2 linked regions of the Homo sapiens genome follow. Changing the gene in region 1 together with any one later gene gives a genetic interaction. Each region holds a gene or a part of one and is shown on either strand. Other genes may lie near its edges.

What was found.
Region 2: changes in PPME1 (region 1) and TMEM165 are lethal when combined (synthetic lethality), as found in Homo sapiens cells (one study listed by BioGRID).

What each region holds. Positions count from the first base shown.
Region 1 is NC_000011.10:74,244,283-74,251,307, reverse strand, and holds part of PPME1 (protein phosphatase methylesterase 1), read right to left. Parts: exon of another isoform or gene 5,813-7,025; intron 5,275-5,812; coding exon of another isoform or gene 5,233-5,274; coding exon 5,103-5,232; intron 4,230-5,102; coding exon 4,185-4,229; intron 1,163-4,184; exon of another isoform or gene 986-1,162; intron 355-985; coding exon 290-354; coding exon of another isoform or gene 50-289; exon of another isoform or gene 1-49. UniProt on the Homo sapiens protein: Demethylates proteins that have been reversibly carboxymethylated. Demethylates PPP2CB (in vitro) and PPP2CA. Binding to PPP2CA displaces the manganese ion and inactivates the enzyme.
Region 2 is NC_000004.12:55,392,130-55,398,981, reverse strand, and holds the start of TMEM165 (putative divalent cation/proton antiporter TMEM165 precursor), read right to left. Parts: upstream 3,026-6,852; 5' UTR 2,793-3,025; coding exon 2,586-2,792; intron 1,864-2,585; exon of another isoform or gene 1,711-1,863; intron 1-1,710. UniProt on the Homo sapiens protein: Putative divalent cation:proton antiporter that exchanges calcium or manganese ions for protons across the Golgi membrane.

The DNA of each region.
Region 1 (7,025 bases):
TCTTCCATCTCTGGCTTTTGGGGGTATTGGAGAAGTAGAGCTTAAGATCTTAACCACAGGGCCCTGGGATGAAATAGCAGAGTGTCAGTAGCTCCTCAGCACATATACACAAAACCAATACCATAAGCAGCTGCCAGGGAGAAGTTGGAGAGCTGGTGGAACTGCATCTGCATAGGCTCCACAGCAGCTGCTGCAGGCAATGCAGGCTGAGACTCAGAGACTTGTCTTCTGTGACATCCAGGGTTATTCTCACAGTTGTCCTTTTACAGTCACTGAGCACCAGACTCACCTTGTCAGGGGCATCCTCATGGACTGCATGGCCACACTGGGGTAGGACCTGCATCTGGAACTTCCCTGGAGAGGAATCAAAGCAAGGCAACTTCAGCGACTAAAAGAGCCCTCTCTTATGCAGCCTCATAGGTCATTCCAGGAGCCCAGGACCTACCTCCCCATTTCCAACCTCACCTCAATACTCTGGACCCAATTATCAAGTCTTGCTGAGGATGGTAATACAAGTAATTGTAACCTTGCGCCAATCATTTCCCTTCACTTTTTCCTTCTGTCCTATTTAGTGTACATTTACTGTGGGCCAGAGACACATAGAAGAAACAGTTCTTGTCCTCAGGGGATTTACAGTCCAGTAGGGGAGTAAAACACAAAAACCAACATTTTAATGCAGCATGTCATTCCTATGATAAAACTGGCTACATGGGGCTGTAAGAGCATAAGAAAGGGAACTTCACAATCCAAGAGGGAACCAGGAAGGAAGGAAGGCTTGAAATGGCTTGGAATACAAGAAGCTTGGCATGGTGCTTATGAGAGTGGTTAACAATAAGGCTGGAGAGGTAAGCAGGGGCCAAACCATTAAGGATTTTGTAAGCTATGTTAAGGATTCAAAATGTATTATTACAATAATAAGTTACCATCTGAGCACTTAAGCATGTGCCAGGCATTGTACTAAGCACTTTCTCATACTGTCTTACAGAACACTGTAAGCTCGTAACTAATGCGACAATGATTGAGAATGAACAGCGATGACTGATAAAGAAGATCCCTAAGGAGACTAAAGGATATGAGACCCAGAGCCCCCATAAGTAGAGACAGCAGATTTTCTCAGCCTCAGATTCTCTATTTATAAAATAAAGGAATGGGCTTGAAAGTTCTTCTGGTCATTACATCCTGTGGTTCTTACCCCAGTTACGCAGGATTCAAAAGTTTTCAGTGTATTCTTCTATCCATTTTTAAAGTTGATTCTCAAAATCTACCCTATACAATTAAGCACAAAAATACTGAAATTCTTTTCTGAGATGATGAAACTGAGGCCATGATTAGTGAAGTAACCTGCCCAAGGCCACTTCATTAATTAGTGGAGGAATAAGATGATCCCATTTAGTAAAGTCCATCCTGTGCCCCTCCTCCTGCAGTAAGCTGCCTCTCTCTGGGTGCTCAAGCCTAGTCACCTCTCCCTTCTAGCTCCTAAAGTTGTTAATGCACTTGGATCCAAACACAGAGCAGCACATGGCCCTCTTGTAAGTTTCAAGTAAGTTTACATTTTACATGCCACTGGTGCTTGCCTCCCCAGGAGTGTGTCATTTCCATAAGAACAGGGGACAATGGTGTTATTACTTGCTCTATATCCCTAATAAGACCTAACACAGGGTAGGGCACTGAGTAGATGCTTAAGTCTTTAGCGAATGAATGATGAACAAATGACTAGATCCAAAACTTACAACTCCAATCTCCCTGTTCTTTCTGTTAGATCAGCTCTGATGACTAGGGACGCATTTGTCCTTCCTCTTTGGAAGAGTAGGTATAATCAGAGAGAACTCACATACACCAACAACACTGTGCCAGGTACACATAAAATAACATGTTCATGGGTAATCCTCATGATTATTCTATGAGGTGGGAATATTTCCAAACTCTTCTCTCCCATTGCACAGATTAGGAGCCTTAGGTTCAGAGAGCCTAAATTATTTACCCAAGGGGTACTATGAATAGGTGGTAGTTTTCCAGGATTTCATAACTAAGTCAGTTGGTTTGAACACAGTGCTGGCAAAGCTGTGGTTTGGAATCTATGCAGCCTTAGCCATTTCCCTTTGTTCTGTGGAATGTTCCTTATCCTCGCCATTTACTCTCTATACTCATAGGAGGCTTTCTTTAAACCAGAAGGTGGTCTTGATATAATCCATATTGAGGAAACAGGAGGACATCTCATAAGGAATCGTGATTACTTCCTGAATATAATGAAAGGCATCATTTGTTAGACTACCCGCATTTTTTTCATTTAAACTTCATGTAACTGTACTGAGATATATCATTATCTCCATTTCACAGATGAAGAAACTCAAAATTAAATAAGTTAGGAATTCACTCATACCGCAAAACTATTAACAGTGATTCAAACCCAGGATTGTCTGATTCCAAGGCTGGTGATCAACAATGATTTCAAATGCTATCCCAGTCCATGTCAACTGCCTTCAGGCAGTCTCAGGGGCCATATCTGATTCTTCTGTCTGCCCAGCATCATGCATAGGTCTTGCACAGAAAGGGTGCCTAGGAAAGGTTTCTTGAATTGAACTTAAGTGTCTTAGATTCAATTTCATGGCACTCATGTTGGTAATTACGGGCTTAGACATTTATAAGCATCTACTTAAATAAGTGTCTAAGCCCATAATTACCAACATCAGTGCCATGGAAAAAAAATCACACAGTCCCAGCTCATAGTCCTATTCTAGGCCTCAGGATACAATGTAGTTAAAGGAAGGCAAAGCCATGAAGGTCTGGGACCAGAGTTTTATATGTGAGAGCCTTTGAACAACTATTATGAGAGAATATAGCTCCTTTTGCTGTGGAAAGCTTGAGGATAGCTAAAAGAACAGTTTGAGAGGCCCATGAGATATCCAGCAGGTTTGCTACATAGGCTAGGACTGGATCTCAGGAGAGAGGGGTGAGGTGGATGTTTAGCTTTGGGAGTCATCAATATATAAATGGAAGCCATGAAATTGTCCAGGGAGAGTAAGTAGGGAAGAAAGGTCTAGAACAGATTCTGCCTGAGCCTGAAACTTTGGTCTTGGAGTTGGCACCTCTTCTTCCCATAACCCAAAAGTTGTATGCCTACTGGCTTCACCTTCACTGAGTCTTTTACCCGTACTAAAGCAAGAGCCCCCACAAAATTGGACCCGCTGCCTCCACTGTTATCTAGCTAACATACATGCATCTGTATACAGTGCTCAGCATGTCACTTTCCTACTCATTATACCCCACGATCTGTTTGAGGCTGCCATCAGTTTTTTCATTTTCCAGATTAAGAAGACTAAAGCTGAGGCAAGTCAGATAACTTGCCCAGAGTCAAAAAATTACTGGAAAAGCAGTATTCAAAACTCAGTTTTCCGAACTTCAGAGACCTTACTTTTACCATCTTACCATGCTGTCTTCTAAACAGGTATTTATACCTTTTTATATCTGGATTATCTTGAGCCTTTCCCTTTCCTAAAACTTCTAACAATAAGAAAAATACTGGCCAGCTGCAGTGGCTCACACCTATAATCTTCGCACTCTGGGAGGCCAAGGCAGGTGGATCACTTGAGGTCAGGAGCTTGAGACCAGCCTGGCCAAAATGGTGAAACTCCATCTCTACTAAAAATACAAAAATTAGCTGGGCGTGGTGGTGCATGCCTGTAATCCCACTACTGGGGTGGGTGAGGCCCGGAACTGCTTCAACCTGGGAGGTAGAGGTTGCAGTGAGCCGAGATTGGTCCCACCGCACTCCAGCCTGGGCAACAGAGTGAGACTCCAATTCAAAAAAAAAAAAAAAAAAAAAACCCACAAACAAAAAACTGATCAGTAGTCAGAATATCTCTTTTCACAGTATCATACACCTATACAGTACTTTATAATTTTTAAACACATTGCCTCATTTTAACTCTTATAACTGAGACATAGGTAGTAGTATTATAATCTTCATTTTTGGATGGATTTTTTTTTAAACAAATTAAAGCTCAGGAAAGGGAAATACTTGCCCATAATCATATAGTGTGTTAGGAGTAGAGGCGGATGTCCAACTTGGGTCGGACTCTAAAGCTCATGCTTTCTCCGTTATACCTCACTATCTCAGGATGTTAACTGCCCTATCACCCTTTCTTCAGAAAAGGGTCCAGGGGTATAATTTCTTGATAACTTACCTTGCATCTGGCCAATGGTCAGATCTTTATCCAATCTATCAACACCTAGAAAACAAGAGAATTCATTGTGAAACAGATTTTGCTGTTCACGTATTAAGTAAAAAGTGTTACAAAGTTTTAAATATGATGACATTCTCCATTCATGTTTATACCAATCCTAACTCCCAGAGCATACTCTCACCACCAGATAAAACTTTTCAGGTTGAGATTCCCCTATAATTACTATGTTAAACTGGTTCTGAAAACAAGGTTTTACTATTTTAATTCTCATAATAATCAGAATATCCTTATACCACTGCATCTAGCTCTAGACTAAGAAGGACTTGAGCTTGACCAAGTAGACAGGCCAGGCCAGAATTAGGTCATCCTTTATGCTTAGATGAATGCTTATGCTTAGTTAGGTTTAGAGACTGGGTGTGGGGAGGAGAAAAGGCATAGATGAATGAGGAAGGTACTCTACTTTGGATGTCACTACTCATTTGGTGAGAAGTTTTAATGAGGTCATATTGAGATGACAATATACCAACACTGCTATGGACTGAGTTGTGTCCCCCTAAAACTCATGTTGAAGCCCCAATTCCCAATGTGACTGTATTTGGAACTAGGGCCTATAAGGACGTAACCTCAGGTCATGAGGGCAGAGCTCTGACATGATAGGATGAACGTCCCTAATTAATATCCTTAAGAGAAGAGACACCAGAGAGCTCACATTCACTCTTTCTCGGCCATGTGAGGGCACAGAGAGAAGGCAAGCCAGGAAGACAGCCCTCACCACAACCTGACCATGCTGGCACCCTGATCTCAGACTTCCAGCCTCCAGAACTGTGAGAAAATAAATTTCTGTTGTTTAAGCCACTCAGTCTATGATATTTGGTTATGGCAGCCTGAGCTGACTAATATATGCACATATACACTTACCAGCCAAGAGCAGCAATTTAGGAATGGGACAACTAAGAAAGAGATTGGATAAGCCTCGGAACCAGCCGTCCCAGTATTTTTCTGTTTTTGCCAGTTCAATTCTCCAGGTGTATGGATGGTCTTTCTTGGTCTGGAGGAATAAGAGCAAGTTCTGAGTCTCCGAGGGCAACCCCTGGAGGAACAGGATTAAAAACTAGATCCCTGGGAAAAGGAAAGGGAAGGAAACTAGCACTTATTAAGGACCTACTAAGTCCTAGACATTTTAATATACATTCAATCCTTCCAACAGTCTTGTTGTATGGGTCACTGTTAATATTCATTTTAAGATAATTACAAGTTTACTTTTTATTGCTATTAGTTTCTGTGAATTTAGGAAACTTTCTTAAGATCACAAAGCTAGTAAGTGGTAGTGCCAAGATTAAGCCTTTCTTATACTTGGTTGGCAAAAGGATGTTTCATCAAAAGAATAACTACAAAGAACATACTGCAGTATGAAAAAATGCTTATAATATAAGCAAGAAACAGATTACAACATGTCATCTAAGTTAGGATTACTACTGGAAAAATGTGGTATAGTAAAGTACTAAAAAGGAAAACTGAAAATAGGTTGATTTGTCAGTAGAGCATTTTTTCTTATATTTTATGATAATGATATAATGTTCCTGCAATAGTAATTTTGAAAGGAAATATGAGACAAATATGACAAAATGTCAACATTTATTAAATCTTTATTGTAGATAAGCACAGAGTATGCAATCAAATATTGGCTGAAAAAATAAATAATTCTCTATATTTTTCTGTACCATTGAAATATTTGAAACATTATAATTGAAATAAATATACTGAATCAACCACAATATGAAAATCTAAAAGTGAACATGAGATAGTAACATATTATCTTAAAGATCACTGGATGCTTAAGATGTCCATACTACCCAAAGTAATCCACAGATTCAATATAATCTCTATCAAAATTCCCATGGCTTTTTTTTTTAGGAAATAAAAAAAATCACCTTAAAATTCATATGGAATCTCATAGACACTGACTAGCCAAAACAATTTTGAAGAAGAACAAAATTGGAGAACTCACACTCCCCAATTACAAAGCTGCAGTAATTGAAACAGCTTAGTACTGCCGTAAAGACAAATAGACCAGTGGAATAGAATAGAGAGCCCAAAAATAAACCTTCACATAAATAGTCAAATGATTTTTGACAAGACTGCCAAGACCACTCAATGGGGAAAGAACAGTCTCTTCAACAAACAGTACTGGGATAACCAAACAGATATGCATATTCCAAAGTGAAGCTGGGGCCTTATCCCATATCCAAAAATTAACTCAAATGGATTAAAGACCTAGTAAGACTAAGACTATAAAACTCCTAGAAGAAAACATGGAGGAAAAGCTGGACAGTAGACTTGGTAATGATTTCTTGGATATGACACCAAAAAGCAGTGAACAAAAGCAAAAATAGACAAATGGTACTATGTGTATGGAATGGGAGAAAATCTTTGCAAATCATATATCTTATAATGGATTAATATTCAGAATATATAAAGGACTCCTACAATTCAGCAACTAAAAACATCGAGTAACCTGATTAAAAAATGGTCAAAGGGCTTGAATAGACATTTCTCTAGAGGTGATACAGAAGTGGCCAATAAGCATATGAAACGATGCTTAACATCACTAATCAATAAATAAATGCACAGCAACACCACAATGAGATACCACCTCACCCCCATTAGGATGACTACTATCAAAAAAGAGAAAAATAAGTGTTGGTGAGGATGTGGAGAATTCGGAAGGAACCCTTGTGTACTGAGTTGTAAAATAGTTCAACCAATAAGAAAAACATCAAGGCAGTTCCTCAAAATATTAAAAACAGAACTACTGTATGATCCAGGAATCCCACTTCTGGG
Region 2 (6,852 bases), on another chromosome or scaffold:
GATAAAAGCTTAGTTCTCTTAATTCCATCTGGTGGATCCCTTGCAACTTAAAAAAAAAAGGTTGGATAGACACTATTAAAAATCGGGTTGTTGTTTTTTTTTTTTTTTCCTGGTTGAGTTTATTTTACAGCCAGTTTTTCCAGAAAGGTATTTAACAGCTGATATAAACTTGACATGCAACTACTTCAACCCAGTCTTAGAAAATTAGTTAATAAATGCCAAGAACAGACAAGGTCTTCTGGAATAGACAGATGAGTAAGCCAGAGTCATGCTCTCAAGACACCTAAAAGCTAGTAGGGGCAGATAAAACACGCACACAACTTGCAAGAACCCAAGGCAGCAAGATGTGTGTGTAAACATGCCACAACATACACAATAAAGTTCCCAAAAAAGGAGAAAGAGAAAGCTAGGCTCAAGATCAAAGAACTGCACCAGCATACAATCCAATAAACCATTAAAATCCATTAGTGAATTAAATAAGTCAAAAGAGTAAGACACAATGAATGCTAATAAAACTTAGTAAGGCACAGAAGTCCAGATTCTAATTCTGGTTCTGCTGAAACTAGCTTCTAGCTCTGTGATATTAAACCACTATTCCTTACAAACCTCCTCTACCTGTTTAACGTGCTGTTGTGAGGATTAAATCGGCTCCCAGAATCTTCACTTCCCAGTAACTTTATCTCCCAGATTCCCTCCCATATCAGAATCTCCTCATAGGCAGTTAGTTATTCAACTTCTTCCTGAGTACTTCCAGTAAGGGGAACTTCATTATTTCTCAATAGCGATTACTACATCTGGGACAGCACTGATTCTTACAAATGTTCTTGCTTAGTGAAACCAAGATCAGTCTCTCAGAAAGTTCTATCCTACGGTCTTACACAGAAAAACAACAGAAAATTGGAAAAGCCTAAGAAAGTAACATGTAACGAAAACATGAAACACGAAAACAATGCACCGGTGTGAGAGCTCACCAGCACTTGGGAGGCCAAGGCCGGAGAAGCGCTTGAGCCCAGGAGTTTGAGACTAGACTCGGCAACATAGTGAGACCTCCTCTCTCAAAAAAAAAAAAAATAAACAAAAATTAGCCGGGCGTGTCAGCACACGCATGCAGTCCCAGCCACTCAGGAGGCTGAGGTGGGAGGATCAATTAGAGGTTGCAGTGAGCCAAGACGGGGCCACTGCACTCCAGCCTGGGCGACAGAGCGAGACCCTGTCTCAACAAAGAAAAAGGAAAAAGGAAAGGAAGGGAGAAAGGAAAGGAAAAAGGAAAGGAAAGGAGAAATGAAAGGAATGGAAAGGAAAAAGGAGAAAGGAGAGGAAAGGAAAAAGGAGAAAGGAGAGGAAAGGAAAGGAAAGGAAAGGGTCAGATAAATCACCCTTAACCAAGAAATTTTAGGGAAGTCTTCACAGAGAGTAGGTATCTGCTGGTTCTCCAAGGTGGGAAGAGTTGATCCGTGGCTTCAAACTCCAGGTCTTTTTTTTTTTTTCTTTGAAAAGGTCTTGTGTTAGGGAGGAACTGGCAAGAGAGCACAAAGCCTGTCCCAAAGGGCTCTTGAAGCACATTCTTTTTTGCAGATGAGCATATCCCTTTAGCATATGAGCAAGAAAGCGGTGGCTAAAAAGCCTGGAGGTGAGCTGGAGCCAGATCAGAAGAAACCTGAACATCACTCTCCTAAAAAGGCTGGACTGAAATTAGTGGAGGCAACTCACCGACGACTTCTGACAAGATGGCAGAATTCAATGTTCGGGAAGATTAGTTACGTGGAGATGGGCTGGATGTGGCCTGGGTGGGAGTGGGGGTTTGAGTGCCACACTGGCCGGGATTCAGGGAGCAGATACTGGAAATGACGACAAAGCCCACGACTGGGAGAAGGGAGAAATGTTAAAACGCTGCCAAGTGACTAAGGACTAATTCTATTAACAGATTAAAAAGTTGATTTCTAGTATCTATTCAGGGAAGGACAAAATACAGGATTCTGTTTTACTTATAAATGTAGTTTTGGCATCCCACATCGCTGCAGCACGCTGTACTGCCGGAGACTAATTCCTCTGCGTTCCTAAAGGCTACTTCCTGCTAGCCAAAGCACATTTTTAAAAAGTGAGAGTCATGGTTCATAATCCATATTTGGCAAAAAGCACAGGCAGTGCCAAGTTGAATTTGGGTAAGCAGTTTGGCATAAGCTATTTCAACAATGAAATGGCCGATGTGATGATCCTCAGGGAATACAAAAAGCCTCCTAGCAGCCTTCTGTTAAAAACTTTTTGGTAGGGATGAGTCTTTCTAGCTACTCTAAGACACATCTGATCAATAAAACGCCCATCCCGGAGCAGCATCTTGGCCCTCCGGAGATCAACGTTTATAGCGGGCTCCTCTTGGACTCTCCCTCTCCCTTTCCCTAAAGGAGCGGGCAAGACCAGGCCTCACCGGAAAACAGCGCAGCCGACCGCCCTCCACCCCGGGAGCAGGGGCCGGGCTCCCCTCCCCCAGCCGAGGCCGGCGGAGTGCGGCGCTTTCAAAGGCCTGGAGCCTGGTACTCGGCGCAGCCGGCCCTGCAGCCTCGCTCGCCCCATCCCGGCCCGCTCACCTCGACCCGGGCCGGCTCGGGGCCCTGCACAGCCACAGGCTGCGGCTGCAGCTGCTGGGCCGGCGCCGGCGGTTCTTTGTTCCGGTGGCTAAGGTCTTCATCTGGGCCGGCCCGGACCGCAGCCGGGGCCCACAGCAGCGGAACCAGAAAGAGCAGAAGCAGCCGGGGCGCCGATGCGCGGCCGTTCCCTGGAGCCGCGGCCGCCATCCCGCCTGCCGGGCCGGCCGCGCACGGGCGCCGCAAGAGGAAGTGCCGGCGACGGGAAGCCTCGACCCCGAACAGCCTCCGCGGCGCGTCCTCACGACTCGCCGCCGCCGCCGCTTAGGGAGCAGTCAGCACCATCCGGGAGGTGCAAGCAGCGGGAGTGAGGTGAGGGGCAGGCCGAAGTCCGCAGCCCCGGCTCGGCGCCCGTCCTCTCCGGCGGCGGCTAAACTGGAGTCAGCCAGCTGCCTCGGCGCGGCCCAGCCCCGACTCCTCCCGGCCCCGTCCCTGCCCGCGACGGCCTCCCATTGGCCCGGCGACCGCCTTGGCGTCGTGACGTCCTCTGCCAGGTTGAGGTGCGGCGCGGGCCCTCCTCCCATTGGATCCGGCGCTCCCGGCAGGTACCCGGCGCCGCGTGTCCTTCCTCTGCTCGCATCCTCACCGCGCCGCGCCCGGGGCTCCCTTTCTCTCTCTGTGCCCCACCGTCCCAGGACTGCGAGGTCCTTCACTTCTGCTTCCTCCAGAGCCTTCCGCCGTAATGTCCGCACCCGCTGTTCCCTGCGCTTAGTCTCTCTTAGAGGTCAAATTAGTGCGAGCGCCTCTGGTTACGTGGCGCTGACTCGCAGGCACTGCCACGCCCAGCTCTGTTCCGCTCTCCCCCGCCGAGCCTCTGTGCCACCCTCCATGTGGCCACCTACCGCCAAAAACGTTCTTAGGAGCTCAAAATGCTATTTTTTTTTTAAAGTTCTGAAATGGGATTTGGAAATAACATGACATTTTTCAAGCCTTGTTTTAAGATACTGCCTATAATTACCCCAGACCAAAAATGGCTAACGTTGCCCTTGTCCAGTATGGCCTTGACGTTTTGGGTGCATCTTGTTTTGTGCTATTCCTTAGACCCTTTAAAAATGCTGGGCTTTTGAAATGGACTGTTTAAGACTTTTGCAGGATGGAGCTTTGAGTGGGCAAGACTAGAAGACAGGAAAGGATGGTCTTGAGTTAGGCTTGAGAATATTTTTACGTCTTCCCAAAAGAAAAAGTGAGCTACTTAATTACCATAAGTTTGAGACCTAGTCCCTAATAAAAATCGATAGTGCTAACCATGTGCCAGGCACTAATCTAATATTATACATATTTACATACAGTAAACCTGTACTCAGTAAAGAGCTAAGGAAGTTTATCACTAACTGAAACAAAAAATTAATCCACCAAAACAATCTGTGGGAAAGTGGGCAAACCTACTTTGAGTTCACCAAAGATACAGTGTTTGTCACAGGATAATAAAATTTCCGTCTGTTTTTTTGTTTTGTTGTTTTCTTTGTTTTTGTTTTTGAGACGGAGTTTCGCGCTTGTTGCTCAGGATGGAGTGCAATGGTGAGATCTCGGCCCACTGCAACCTCCTCCTCCCGGGTACAAGAGATTCTCCTGCCTCAGCTTCCCGAGTAGCTGGGATTACAGGCATGCTCCACCATACGCGGCTAACTTTGTAATTTTAGTAGAGATGGGGTTTCTCCATGTTGGTCAGGCTGGTCTCGAACTCCAGACCTCAGGTGATCTGCCGGCCTCGTCCTCTCAAAGTGCTGGGATTACAGGTGTGAGCCACCGCGGCCGGCCTCCGTCCATGTTATTCTGTCCGTAATTCCCCTTCTTCCATTCTCTCCTTGTAAACTCCTACTCATACTTCCAAAACCTATTCAAGCTTCCACTCTCAGAACTTTTCCCCAACACATGGCGTTACAGAATTTGTCACTTGTTCCTTCATGTTATTGCTTTATGCATTCTTCTATTACTGTGTAAGTAGGATGCCTCCACTTACAGTTTGGGGTGTGTTAAAAGAAAAACCTTAGACAAATTAAACTTAACAGCGTTTAATCAAGCAAAGAACCCAAAGAATGATCTGCAAATCAAAAAGACCCCAAATCAAAGTAAGTTCAGAGAGGCTCCAGTCTTGCCGAGTGGTCGGAAAAAATAAAGTGACTTACAGAAAACATAATTGAGGGACAGAAACAGCTGGATTGGTTGTAGCTCAGGTTTGCCCTATTTGAACACGGTTTGAACAGTTGGCCACTTGTGATTGGCCAGAACTCTGTGATTGGTACAAGAATAGGTTACAGTCTGTTTACATACCCAATTAGGCTACAGTTCACCATGTATGGGGAAACCTTTAGGCCTAACTTAAAATATGTAAGGAGGCAGCTTTACACTAAATTTAACAGATGCAACTATCATCCCTGGAGTGCAAATGTTTGAGCTTTCAGAAGCCAGTAATAACATAAAACCCAGAAGCCCAAACTTCAACTACCTCCCCTTAATGCATACAGGATTTGCTGTGCTTAAAAGGGGCCTGAAAGGGAGGCTTGAGGTCCCAAGGGAGGGACCTGAAAGGAGCAGCTTAGGCTGAAGACAGAGCCAGAAGGGTGAATGTAGCAAAACTGGCTGTGTGTCCCTCATTGCTGAAAGCTGCTTTGTTTATTTTCTAGGATGGGCTGCCCACACTCCAGGGCTTTCTCACAGGAAGGACTCCTGGCCAAATTCAGTCATCTCAACATATGAGGCAGTGAGGACTTCTGGGCTACAGCTGCAGGATGCTGAAGCACCAGCTGCTGAGCATGCAGTGGTTCAGGGGCAAGGCAGCAAAGCTATTTGGCAGAAGATGTAACATAAATGGAGATAGAGCATTGGCGAACTGGCACAGTGGTGTCAGCAAAGCATCAGAATCTGGGCCAGAGTGAGACCTTTCTAGCCTGCCCCAGTGTCACCCTGATCCAAGGGCCTTCAGGTGCTGCCAGGCTAGGCTCTAGGTGTCTGATTCTCATGGGATCTGGTATTTCTGTTTCCACACACATCTACCTCCTGGGATCCGTGCTCAGGCGTGCTAAATCGAGGCTGGCTCCAGTTTTCACCACCTTGAGGGTTTAGAGCCATCATCCTTCTAGTCCTCATTGGTGACTAACTCCCTTAAAAAAAGCAATTAAAAAACTATAGGAGCTTTCCTGATACCTTTCTTGAAGGACAACTGAAGCTACTTATTTAACCCCCTACCCAATAAGGATGTGGGTGGCGCAACAATTCCAAGATGATATATTTTTTAATCATAGCCTACACCGATATAGTCTTACTAAAATGTAACCACTGTCAGGCATCCTATGGAAAGAAACCCTACTACATGTGCATTACATTGTATTTTATTTAATTAATTTATTTATTTATTTTTGAGGTGGAGTCTCGCTCTGTTGCCCAGGCTGGAATGCAGTGGCAAGATCTCGGCTCACTGCAGCCTCCGCCTCCCGGGTTCAAGCAATTCTCCTGCCTCAGCCTCCTGAGTAGCTGGGATTACAGGCATGTGCTACACGCCCCACTAATTTTTTGTATTTTTAGTAGAGACGGGTTTACCATGTTAGCCAGGATGGTCTTGATCTCCTGACCTCGTGATCCGTCCGCCTTGGCCTCCCAAAAGTGCTGGGATTATAGGCATGAGCCACTGTGCCTGACCTATATTTTATTTTTTATTTATTTATGTAGAGATGGAGTCTCGCTCTGTCACCCAGGCTGGAGTGCAGTGGTGCGATCTCAGCTCACTGCAACCTCTACCTCCCAGGTTCAAGCGATTCTCCTGCCGCAGCCTCCAAAGTAGCTGGGACTATAGGCGCCCGCCACCATGCCTGGCTAATTTTTGTATTTTTAGTAGAGACAGGGTTTCACCATGTTAGCAAGGCAGGTCTCGAACTCCTGACCTCAAGTAATCCATCCACCTCGGCCTCCCAAAGTGCTGGGATTGCAGGTGTGAGCCACTGAGCCGGGCCTGCACTGTATTTTAATGTCTTTTATTCCAACACCCTTACTAAGCCTTAAGCTTCTAGATGGTAAGGTTATGCCTTTTATCTTTATATTTCTAGCACCTAGTAGATTATATAAGAAGGTAATGGGAATAGTTATCATTAAAGTAGTAGTAAAACTTTATTGAATGCTATTCTGATCCAGTCAGAGCACTAAGTGTGTTACATGAATTATTTCTATCCTCCTTTTTGCAAATGAGAAATCTGAGACTTAGGTCAAGGAACTTTCC